Linked DNA regions of Homo sapiens. The protein of the gene in region 2 interacts with the protein of the main gene of each other region in a pairwise test. Each region holds a gene or a part of one and is shown on either strand. Other genes may lie near its edges.

Region 1 (4,221 bases), on a different chromosome or scaffold from region 2:
GTGTGTGTGTGTGTGTGTGTGTGTGTGTGTGTATACTCTGTTATTTTTACCCTCTATCAAACATTATGGGATGCTGAGATACAGAAGAGTGGATATGTCTAAAGAGTTGGCTATAGGACCATGAAAATATAGAAATATAGACTAAGAAAAATAGAAGAGGTCCAAGAAGTGTCTATAGATGCTTCAAATAGAATATAAAATGTAACTTAAAAAGAAACATCAGGAATTAAAAAATATAGTGTTGGGGACTTGTCTCTCAATCCTCATTTTGCAGGGCATCACTGGTTTTATTGTTGTTGTTTGCTTGTTTTTTGAGACAGGGTCTCACTCTGTTGCCAAGGCTAGAGTGCAGTGGTGCGATCTCAGTTCACTGCAACCTCTGCCTCCTTGGTTCAAGTGATCCTCGTGCTTCAGCCTCCAGGGTAGCTGGGATTACAGGCATGCACTGCCATGCCCAGCTAATTTTTGTATTTTCAGTAGAGAAGGGGTTTCACCATGTTGGCCAGGCTGGTCTCGAACTCTTGGCCTCAAGTGATCTGCCTGCCTTGGCCTCCGAAAGTGCTGGGAGTATAGGTGGGAACCACCATGCCCGGCCAGATATCACTCGTTTTAAAGCATCCTTTGTAGTCTCACTCAGAACATCAGTTCCGAAAATCTTTATTATCAATAGACACATGACTTTACAAAAGCTTCTAGTATATAAGGACATCTTGCCCATTCTTAATAACGTGTTGATAACAAAGACACTCATCATTTATATGATGAAGTTACATTCTAGATCCTATTCGTTTTCCATTTCTAATAGCCCCATTTTATTAATTGCAATGATTTTCAACTCCGCTATCAAAAGGAAGTCAACTGTTGCTCTGATTACAATTGGGTGTTTCAAACTATCGTCTTGATTACAAATGAATGAGTTGCATGCTGCAGTTGGAGATACTTCGCATACTTCAAAGAAAGGAGTAGAAATATGTCTGATGGTAAAATATAGAATGATAGAATTTATACATAAAAATCAAGACTATAGTTACCCTATTTTTTTTTTTAAGCTGTACACAATCTTCAGTAGTTTCCTGTCAAGTTAGGAACTTTATATGTTAGAGCCTGAACATATCTGCATATGACATTTAACTATAAAGCATTAGGACTGTTTTTAAATAAATGTAAAGGCATTGATATAAAAAGAGTACTGTTCTCTTTTTAAGTTGTTACCTTAAAAGGCCATAAAATTACTTCTGTGATGTCACAGTTCAAATATTTTTGAATGACTGACATTTTTAAAATTCTAACTCATATTATCCTGGATACCGATGCATACTAGATGAGCACCTTTCCTAGTTAGGACATTTCTGGAGTTGTTACCACCTATAATCTGTGGCTTGGTGGTAGTTGTAAAATTTGATATTTGGCTAGTAGAAAGTAGTCACTGTATATGTTAAAATAGCTATAAAAGATTCTTACCTTCAGCTCCTGAAGGATCTATTGTTCTTTGTGATTTGTTCTTTCATTTTGTACCCTAAAAGATATGAGTGTATAAAATTTGCAGAATTGCCACAAGGTCTTCTTGGCCAAAGTCACCTTTCAGAGTTGCCAAGCAAGCATCATGAGATTGGTAAAGCCAGCTCTACAGCATCTCTTGGTGGCACTAGAACACAATTTCTTAAGGAAAAAGCCAGCATTTCACCCACTGCCTGGTGTGGCAGTCAGAGCCAGGAAGGGCTTTGGTGAATAGGCCAGGACGTGCAGTGGGCCAAATGATGCCTTCTCTTAGGTCAGTGACCCAGCCTCTACAACTTCCTACAACTCCTTCCAGGACTTTCTGACTCACAGCTTGGGAAGAATTAGGAAAGAACACCTGCCAAGCTGAGCAGAACAGCTGCTTCCTGCTTACGTGTTTTTGGTGGAACATCTCATTTCTTCTTCAGGACATGTTTGGATATACACAGGGATAGAAATGCCATAGTGAAAACATCTTTATGACTGTCAAAAAAAAAAAAGCCCTAATATTCACAGAAGATGGGGTCTTGGTTTCTTTATTCCATTTTATTATTTATTAAGACTGTTAACAAAAAATAGGCTTTATTTTTCCTCTGTACTTAAAAACTATAAATTTACTTGGGTCACTAACAGTGCTCTCAGTCTGAGAGAAAATTACATAATAACAACAATAATGAACAAAGCACTTAGCATGTGCCAGGCACTGTTCTAGGTGCTTTTACATATTCAGTCATCACTTTTCACAACAGCTCTATGAGGTAAGTACTGTTATCTCCGTTTTACAGATGAGGAAACTGAAGCACAGAAAAACCAAGGTTCAGTCAGACAGCTAGTATGTGGCAGAGTCAAGATTTAAATCTAAGAAACAGGATCTGGAATCTGTACTCCTAACCATTACGCCACACTGAGATGGTTCCCAAACAGCAGGAAGAAGAAGTGTTCTTTCCCTATAGGTAACAGTTCACTCATTCTTTTGGTGCAGTAATGGACAGTCTGTACCGAACTCTCCAATATAAAACGTGAGGAATTAAAATGTATATAGAGCCTGAAAACTCACTTACTTTTATAATGGTTCCAAGCAAAGAAAATGCTTTATGGGTTCAAACATGTCAAATTTATGAACTCTTCGTTTTTTTGTGGAAACTGGCTGGCAGTCTCTATTTACAATATCTCTCCTCTATTATAAAAAACATTGCAGTGGAGCTATGTGAACATTTTTTCCCCTTTCCCTTAGAGAAAGCAAATTAAGTCAAAGGTGATACATATCCTTGGAGTTGGCTGAAAAAGAAATTGGGAGAAATATGAGAATAGCCTTGTGGAACTTGGTTTCCACAATTCTCAAATTTAACCATGAAATTAAAATTAGATACAGGGGATAGATTTTCCTGGTCATAAGCAAGTCAGGCAGTGAGCTCCAAAGAATTCACATACTCCTCCTTCTAATTCTTTTAAAATTCCAGCTTCTAAAGGACCTGAGAAATATGATCACTACTAAACTCACTCATGTATTAAATAATGATTAGGAAGAGCTAAGAGTTGACACAGAGGAAGGCCAGGAAACATGGTAAATGTGGGTAAGGGCATTAAGAAGTTTGCAGACTACACCATATCTCTAAAGCCTCATGATTTTGCTAAAGTATTGTAACTCAGGAGAGAAAGCAAGACACCCTCATGGGAATTCTTTTGAGTTTTTCATTCTTTTCCCCCTCCACTCAGTTCCATCCAGATGTGGCAGCCTCAGTAGCTAGTAGAAAAAAAATTTGGCCAGGGTCAGTGGCTCAGGCCTGTAATCTCAGCACTTTGGGAGGCCAAGGTGGGCGGATTGCTCAAGCTCACAAGTTTGAGACCAGCCTGGGCCACATGGCAAACCCTGTCTCTACAGAAAATACAAAAATTAGCCGGGCATGGTGGCACATATCTGTAGTCTCAGCTATTTGTAGGCTGAGGTGGGAGGATCACTTGAGCCTGGGAGTTTAAGGCTGCAGTAAGCCATGATTATGCCACTGCACTTCAGCCTGGGTGACAAAGGGAGACCCTGTCTCAAAAGGGGGGAAAAAAGGCCAGGCATGGTGGCTCACACCTGTAATCCCAGCACTATGGGAGGCTGAGGCGGGCGGATCACGAGGTCAGGAGATCAAGACCATCCTGGCTAACACGGTGAAACACCGTCTTTACTAAAAACATAAAAAATTAGCCAGACATTGTGGCACGCGCCCAGAGTCCCAACTTCTCAGGAGGCTGAGTCAGGAGAATCGCTCGAACCTGGGAGACAGAGGTTGCAATGAGCCAAGATCCTGCCACTGCACTCCAGCCTGGGCAACACAGTGAGACTCCATCTCAAAAAAAAAAAAAAAAAAAGGAAAAAGAAAAATTTTAACAATAATTGAGAAAGTAAACTAAATGGTCAAGCCAGAAATGTATAAAAATATGTGTATAATGTAATGTTTATTAAGCTTGCTTGAAAAACAGAATTCTTTTACTTTGAATTTCTCCATTTCAATGCATGGAAGGAATGGTCCACAGTAAAACAAAAGCAGTATTTCCAAGAATGTTAGTTGTCTCTAGCTCCGTATACATTTTCTACCGCCATATGTCTACCGCCATAACCAATGCAGAGTTGTTTAACATGAAGTTTGACCCAAACTGGACTAGGAAGGGGCAAACTGGAGTGAAACAAACTCAAAACAAGCAAACCAATACCAAGAGCCAGAAAAGTGTTCGTCT
Region 2 (7,298 bases):
TAAGCACCGTATTTGAATTTTAGAATGTGGCAATCTATATAACAGTAAATATATGACTGTGATTCTTTTCTATCTTCTCTAAACGCCATTCAATTCTCTCCTCTCTTTAATTGAATTTGGGAAACAAGGTTTGACAAAGGGATACAATATTTAAAGTCTACTAGAAGCACAAGGAAAAAATTCTCCACCAAAGCACATCGACACGTTTGTCCTCCCCACCCCTTTTTAACTGAAGAGCCCCAATTTTGATACTAGAGGAGTTATGGTCTATTGTGAACACACATCTTAGAAGTAGCCTCACATTTTCTTAGAGCTCACTTTGTCATTTTCCCCCTTTTGATACTCTGCCAAATTTAACTTCAAGAATTTATGATTTAAGACACTGTGAGAGTACTTAAATCCAAAGTTCCTGGAAAAATAGGATGTAAAAGAAAAGTTACAATGCAAACCACCCCAATGGACTCTTAGTGAGAAGCAGGTAAATCAATCATTCACTCCCTCATGTCTGCAGGCCTAGGAGGGGACTCTGAAAATAGCATCGTATTTGGAAGAAGAGGAGTGGAGAGACGTCAGGAGAAGAGAAGAGAAAAATGTATGTTTTCTAGGTCTCCAGTGGTCTTTCTTCTCTTTAGATGGTTTAACTGCAGGTGAGTTGATCTTTCTCTTCCTTTGGCGTGACGGTGTTGGGATGTGCTATGGGTAGAAGTCTCTGGGGGCTCTCAAGTCTCTTGTCTCAGTTCTTCTTGGATGGTCATCTCCAGAGCCCAGGTCCATGGCTTCTGGGTAGCTGGGAAATTCCTGAGGTAAAGGGAACTCCTCTGCTGAAGAGTGAGTCCGGTGCCCGAACACCTTTTCCTGCAGCTCAGTGATGTCATTGCGGATGTCAGCCAGCATAAGTAGCAGGAAGTCGAAAGAACCAGGGGGTCCCTGTGTACATGGGAGGAATCAAAGCTAGAATACGACAGACAGCAATGGCCTCCGGGGCTCCATGACTTGACCTGCTGCTTGCTGGCAACTACTTTCTCAATAACTCTGTGCCCCAAATGGAGCCAATGTGAGGACTGCTACAGGAGCCTGGGGGTCCTCCATATTGTTTTCTAATTCTGTCACTTCTCAGCTGAGCTTTGGTGATGTATTCACCTTTCCTCCCTCCTAACGCTTTATCAAATCCAGTAGAGGAAAGGATATAAGAATAACTCTCCTAGGTTACTTTCCAAAGCAGTCTGGAAGATGCTTATGAAGGCAGCAGAGCAGTGGTTAAGAGACTGGGGTTCTGTTGGATTTGAATCTCATCTCTGCCGCTTACTAGCTGTGTCATCTTAATTTCTTGTGGTTCAGTTTCCCCATCTGTAAAACGGGGATAATAATAGTCCCAACTTCATAGGGTTTTGTAGGATTCATAAGTGAGGATTTAAGCAAGTAAATACGTGTAAAGGGCTTTGAGCATAATACGTATTCAAAAATGTTATCTGGGCCAGGTGTGGTGGCTCACGCCTATAATCCTAGCACTTTGGGAGGCCGAGGTGGATGGATAGCTTGAGCCCAGGAGTTCAAGACCAACCTGGAAAACATGGTGAAACCCTGTCTCTACAAAAATTTAACAAAAATTTAGCCAGGTGTGGTGGTGGGCACCTGTGGACCCAGCTACTTGGGAGGCTAAGGTGGGAGGATCACTTGAGCCCAAGAGGTCGAGGCTGCAGTGAGCCAAGATTGTGCCACTGCACTCCAGCCTGGGTGACAGAGTGAGACCCTGTCTCAAAAAAAACAATGCTGTTATTTTTTAAAAGCAAAATTATTAAAATGTTTATAAGATGGCTGACTATAAGCACAAACTAAATGAAGTTGAGAGGATGTTGTAAAGACGTCAACTCCTCGTTGACTAGGAAAGGTCCAAACAAAATCTTCCTAATTTTTCTATGTATTGAGTATCCTTTATCATCATATAGTATTTACTAAGCCTTAATTTCATATAGCGCTGTGTGGGGCATGGTAAAAAAGAAATGCACAAACACGCATGTTCTGGGCTTGTCAGAAGCTTGTAGTAAAATCGTTATCATCTCCCGCAACTGCTGCTACAGCAGCGGGCACCGTGGAAGCAGAGCTTACACCGTAAAGCACTAAGAGAGGCACAGTATTTTCATATCATTTGACCCTCACAGTAGCCACTTCAGGGATGGCAGGTCAGATTCCACTATCGCCACTGCACAGTGGGGGGCAAGAATGCCCAGAGACCCTCAGTGAAGTGCCCGTGGTCAGAAAGCCAGCAGGTAGAAGAGTTGAGATGGGAACCCACGACTCCTACCTCTGTGGCCACAGCCGCTGGATTTCAGAAATGATACTTCTTCAGAAGCAGTGACGTGGTTTGAATTTTCTATGCTTTTGAATACTACTATTTCTCATTTTTAATCTCCCAGATACTATGCTTATATGCAGCTAATTTCTTCTCAGGTCCTAAACAGCCCTGCGTGGTTTTGCACTTTTTAAGAGGAGATGGCCATCTGGCCTGCTAGGGTTGCAGCAGTGGCTAAATTCTCAAGTACGCAGAGTTATGATTTAAACCCATAGATTTCCTTCCTAGACCTTTCAAATGTTTTATGATAATACTTGGAAACAGACTCATGGCATAGCAGGGTTTTGAGCTTTAGGAAAGACATTTCAAATAAAGATTAGCCATGATAAAAGAGAAAACAGCAACAGAAAACAAATTTGAAAAATAAATCCAAACTAGCAGCTAAGGGCTTCTATGACTCTCTTCCTAACCACAGAGTTCTGTTCAGGTGGGCTGAGTGGCATCAGGAAGGGGCGGGCTTTTGCTACTAGACCAACCTATAGGCTCATCAGAGCTGCATCCCTGAGAACGTTCCCCTGGGGAAGCAGGACACAGAGTGCTACTTACTGGAGACCCTCTGGGCCCAGGCGCTCCTCTCTCCCCCTAAAAACAGAAAGGCCAGGGTTAGCTTTCTAGAGCACATGGATATCACAAGAATAGTCTCTATTTATACACCCACCATAACCACTTCCCTGCACAAAACAATAAACATTTTCTATAGAAAACATATGTAAAACTGAGCTGGACTCACGGGACCACTTATTTGAACAGGACTGCTTGGGTCAAGTGTCTCTCATTCTGATTTCCCTCAAGCCCATCTATTTTCAAACCTTCTTGGCAAGAGGAATGTTCATATTTCCCAACAGCATGTGGAGTAACAAACTTTCTGAAGTAACTCACACTGACTTCTTTGTGAGGCAAAAAAGAGCAGGCAGCTCTCAGAGGGGAACCACCCTGCTTGCAAAAAGAATGGAGCATCTCCTGTTCCTGAGAAATCTCACAGAAATGGAAACACACAAAAAGCTATCCCGTAAAGCAACACTGGTTAAAGAGAAAAACACATGTGAGAATCACAACACAGAGGCTCATTTAAAATTTACAGGGGTCACTTTTCCTATGAGTGGTTGTGGTGGTTGTTTTTGTCTTTGGGGTTGGTTTTGGAATTGAAGACAATGGCTTTTCAGATTTTGTTCCCAGCTTTGGGGAAAAAGTTCTATCTGGTATCTGTGTCTCACTTCTGCTGCATGCAAAATGGGGTTGGTAAACAGTGTCTGGTGAGCTTTCCTGGATGTCAGTGCAAGAGGTAGAAAGTGAGAGACCTTCAGGCCGGGAGCGGTGCCTCACACCTGTAATACCAGCACTTTGGGAGGCTGAGACGGGCAGATCACCTGGGGTCAGGAGTTTAAGGCCAGCCTGGGTAACATGGCGAAACCCCGTCTCTACTAAAAAATCCAAAAATTAGGCCGGGTGTGGTGGCTCACGCCTGTAATCCCAGCACTTGGGGAGGCCGAGGTGGGCGGATCACGAAGTCAGGAGATGGAGACCATCCTGGCTAACACGATGAAACCCTGTCTCTACTGAAAATACAAAAAAATTAGCCAGGTGTGGTGGCGGTCGCCTGTAGTCCCAGCTACTCGGGAGGCTGAGGCAGGAGAATGGCGTGAACTCGGGAGGTGGAGCTTGCCGTGAGCTGAGATCGTGCCACTGCACTCCAGCCTGGGTGACAGAGTGAGACTCTGTCTCAAAAAGAAAAAAAAAGAAAAATCCAAAAATTAGCCGGGAGTGGTGGTGCACACCTGTGGTCCCAGCTGCTTGGGAGGCTGAGGCGGGAGAATTGGGCTTGAGCCAGAGAGGCAGAGGCTGTAATGAGCCAAGATTGTGCCATTGCACTCCAGCCTGGGTGACAGAGCAAGACCATCTCAAAAAACAAAAACAAAACAAAACAAAAAAATCGAAAGTGAGAGACCTTTAGCTTGTGAGGACCACTCATAAGGCTTACCTTAGAACCATCTCTTCCTGGTGCCCCTGGTGGACCCTGTAATACAAAAGGATCTGGTTTAACCACAGGCAAAAGCATGGGACAAAAACACATTTTCCCCCAAAAAGGAAGTGGATCTCTGATAAGATACTGACCACAGGGCCCCTCCGGCCTTGCTTAATGTGGGACAGATCAGGAGATGGTCCCATGGGTCCCATTGAGCCCCGTGGGCCGGGCTGCCCAGGAGGGCCTGGCATACCGGGGAAGCCTGGGCTTCCCTTTGGTCCTGGTGAGCCTGTAATCAAAGAACACCTCATTAGCTCACAGCACATGAGAAGGACAAAGGGCCCTGGCTAACAAGAGTCCAGGACCCCTGCAGCCATTTCTCTTTGTACTCTCTCTGCCTTTGCCTTCTGACATCTCCATCAGGCTGTCCCACAGGCATTTTAAACTTGATACGATCAAAAGCGGCTTCCCCATCTTCCTCTCTTTTCGCGGACTGCCAGTCATACATCCACTCAAGCCAAAAACTGGAGAGTCTTCCTCTATATTTCCCTGTTTCTGCAACCTCCTTTTTGAATCAGTGGCCAGCTCCTGTGCATTTTACCTCTTTAACATCTCACAGCTGTCTGCTCCCTTCTATCCACTGGATCACAGCAGAGTAGTGGCCACCACCACAGAGAAGTGGTGATCATGGCTGGAGAGCAGTACAGGTTTTAGCATCAGGGAGACTTGGGTTTGAATCTGACAAGTTGCCTGAGCCATCTGAGCTTTAGTTTCTCATCTCATCTGTAAAAGTGGGCTAATAAAAATCTTCCTTATGGAGTAGTTGCATTACATGAGATTTCAGATATATACACAGCACTTAGTATAGTACTTCACACATAGTAAGTACTAAAACATCTGCTAGGCCTTCCTTATATTTGCTTTGACTCTTGCCTCATTGCTAGTCTTTCTGCCCCGAACCAGTCTTTTCACCCCTTGCCCATTTTTGATATTTCTATAGGGATGACACATCTAAAACAAGTCTTACTATGTAACCCACCTACTTTCAACCTTCTGGTGCAAATGTCTCAAGGCACTCGGTGGGTCAGCAAACTCACTCTCTCTTGCAGGCCCCAGAGAAATATCCCTTACTTCTTAGTGAGGGGTAGGAAATGTTCTTCTGGCTAAGATTTGCCACAGGTACAAGGCATGCTGGGGGATGAGTTGGGGGATATGGGGAAGATCATCTCACCCCAAGGCCCAGAAGCATAGGTCATGCTTAGGATTGCAGCTGGAGCAGGAGAACTGAAAATGTCCCGTTGCCCCACAACTCTAGCATGGAGTAAGTAATAGCAATCTACAGTGTGGGGAGAGAACCCCTCTGTGGCACAGGTGTGTGTGTAGGGGCTGCTGAAAGCTCAGAGTATAAACACTGAGAAAAATCCACTGGTAACCTAGGCCTCCACTAAGCATAAGGTAACAGCATCCTTCCATTGGAGGAATTATTTGAAGACTGTGGAACACAAAGTAAATATAGTGACAATAAAGCCAAAACCCAGCTCAGTTATTCATTAGGTTGACTTAGCTTCCCATGGCAGTGGCCTGACAAAAGAAGAGAGTACCCATCTCCAGGAGTGATAACCATGTGCCTCAGTCTCTACTGTTTCTCTGCAAATGATGTCTGGCATTCAATCCAAAATTTTCAGACATGGAAAGAAAAGGGCTGGGCACAGTGGCTCATGCCTGTAATCCCAGCACTTTGGGAGGTTGAGGCGGGTGGATCACCTGAGGTCAGGAGTTCGAGATCAGCCTGGGCAACATGGTGAAACCCCATCTCTACTAAAAATACAAAAATTAGTCAGGTGTGGTGGTGGGTACCTGTAATCCCAGCTACTCAGGAGGCTGAAGCGGCGGTTGCAGTGAGCTGAGATTGTACCACTGCAGTCCAGCCTGGGTGACAAAGCGAGACTCCATCTCAAAAAAAAAAAAAAAATCAAAACAAAAAAACACATTGTCAAGTAATAGAACAATCAGCAGGACAAGCCTCAGAGGGGACCCAGATGTTGGAATAATGAGATATGGGCTTTAAAATAACAGCATGTGAACGGTGCTGTTGGAAAAGATAAACAGTGTGTCTGAGCAGATGAGGGATTTCAGCAGAGAGATGGAAATTAAAGGAAAAAGTCAAATGGAAATGAAAAATATAATATCATGTATGAAAACAATATAGGCTCATCAACAGACTGCTCCCAGCTGAGCAAAGAATCAGTGAACTTAAAGATAAGTCAACAGTTACTCAAAGTGAATCACAAAGAGGAAGATAAAATGAAGCATCCAAAAGAGGTGAGATAATATCGAACCATCTAACATAAGTGTAATTGGAGTCCAAGGAGAAAAAGAAAACCCTACAGTGGCTCCCCTCTGCATAGAGAATAAAGCTCTAACTCCTCAGCATAGTATCCTTGTTCATTCTTGTCTTTCTTGCCAAGCATTTTTTCCATGATTGCCTCCTTCCTAATTGCCCCATAGTCCCATCCTCCCTGAATAAACCATACCATAGCACACAATCCAGCTCACACTATTCTTTCTGTCTTGTCTCCATCACCACAGATCACCTATCTCCAAAAACATTTTAACATCTCCCCCGTCGTACCAACAACTATCATCAGACAGGCACAAAAACAGATGACTTGTTAAACTCGGTATAGTCTCAGTGCTGTGTCGATACAGGCTTCTGAAAGTTAAACTCGGTATAGTCTCAGTGCTGTGTCGATACGGGCTTCTGAAAGTAAGAATTAACTGCTTTCTTCATTGTACATGCTTGCAGTATATCTATAGTATAATGTGTGTGTTTATATGCATTCATGCACTGTACATGTATGTGTTTTCTGTTTATGTGTATCATTTTCTTCCGAGCATTCTTAACATTTAAAAATTGGGGCCAGGTGCGGTGGCTCATGCCTGTAATCCCAGCACTTTGAGAGGCTGAGGTGGGCAGATCACTTG

The links.
Region 1: the proteins of CCBE1 (region 2) and STX11 interact in binary tests that used the Homo sapiens proteins (3 or more experiments, as listed by UniProt).

The regions. Positions count from the first base shown.
Region 1 is NC_000006.12:144,188,360-144,192,580, reverse strand, and holds the end of STX11 (syntaxin-11), read right to left. Parts: 3' UTR 642-4,221; downstream 1-641. UniProt on the Homo sapiens protein: SNARE that acts to regulate protein transport between late endosomes and the trans-Golgi network.
Region 2 is NC_000018.10:59,435,215-59,442,512, forward strand, and holds part of CCBE1 (collagen and calcium-binding EGF domain-containing protein 1 precursor), read right to left. Parts: intron 4,603-7,298; coding exon 4,463-4,602; intron 4,365-4,462; coding exon 4,329-4,364; intron 2,933-4,328; coding exon 2,897-2,932; coding exon of another isoform or gene 2,827-2,896; intron 928-2,826; coding exon 694-927; 3' UTR 1-693. UniProt on the Homo sapiens protein: Required for lymphangioblast budding and angiogenic sprouting from venous endothelium during embryogenesis.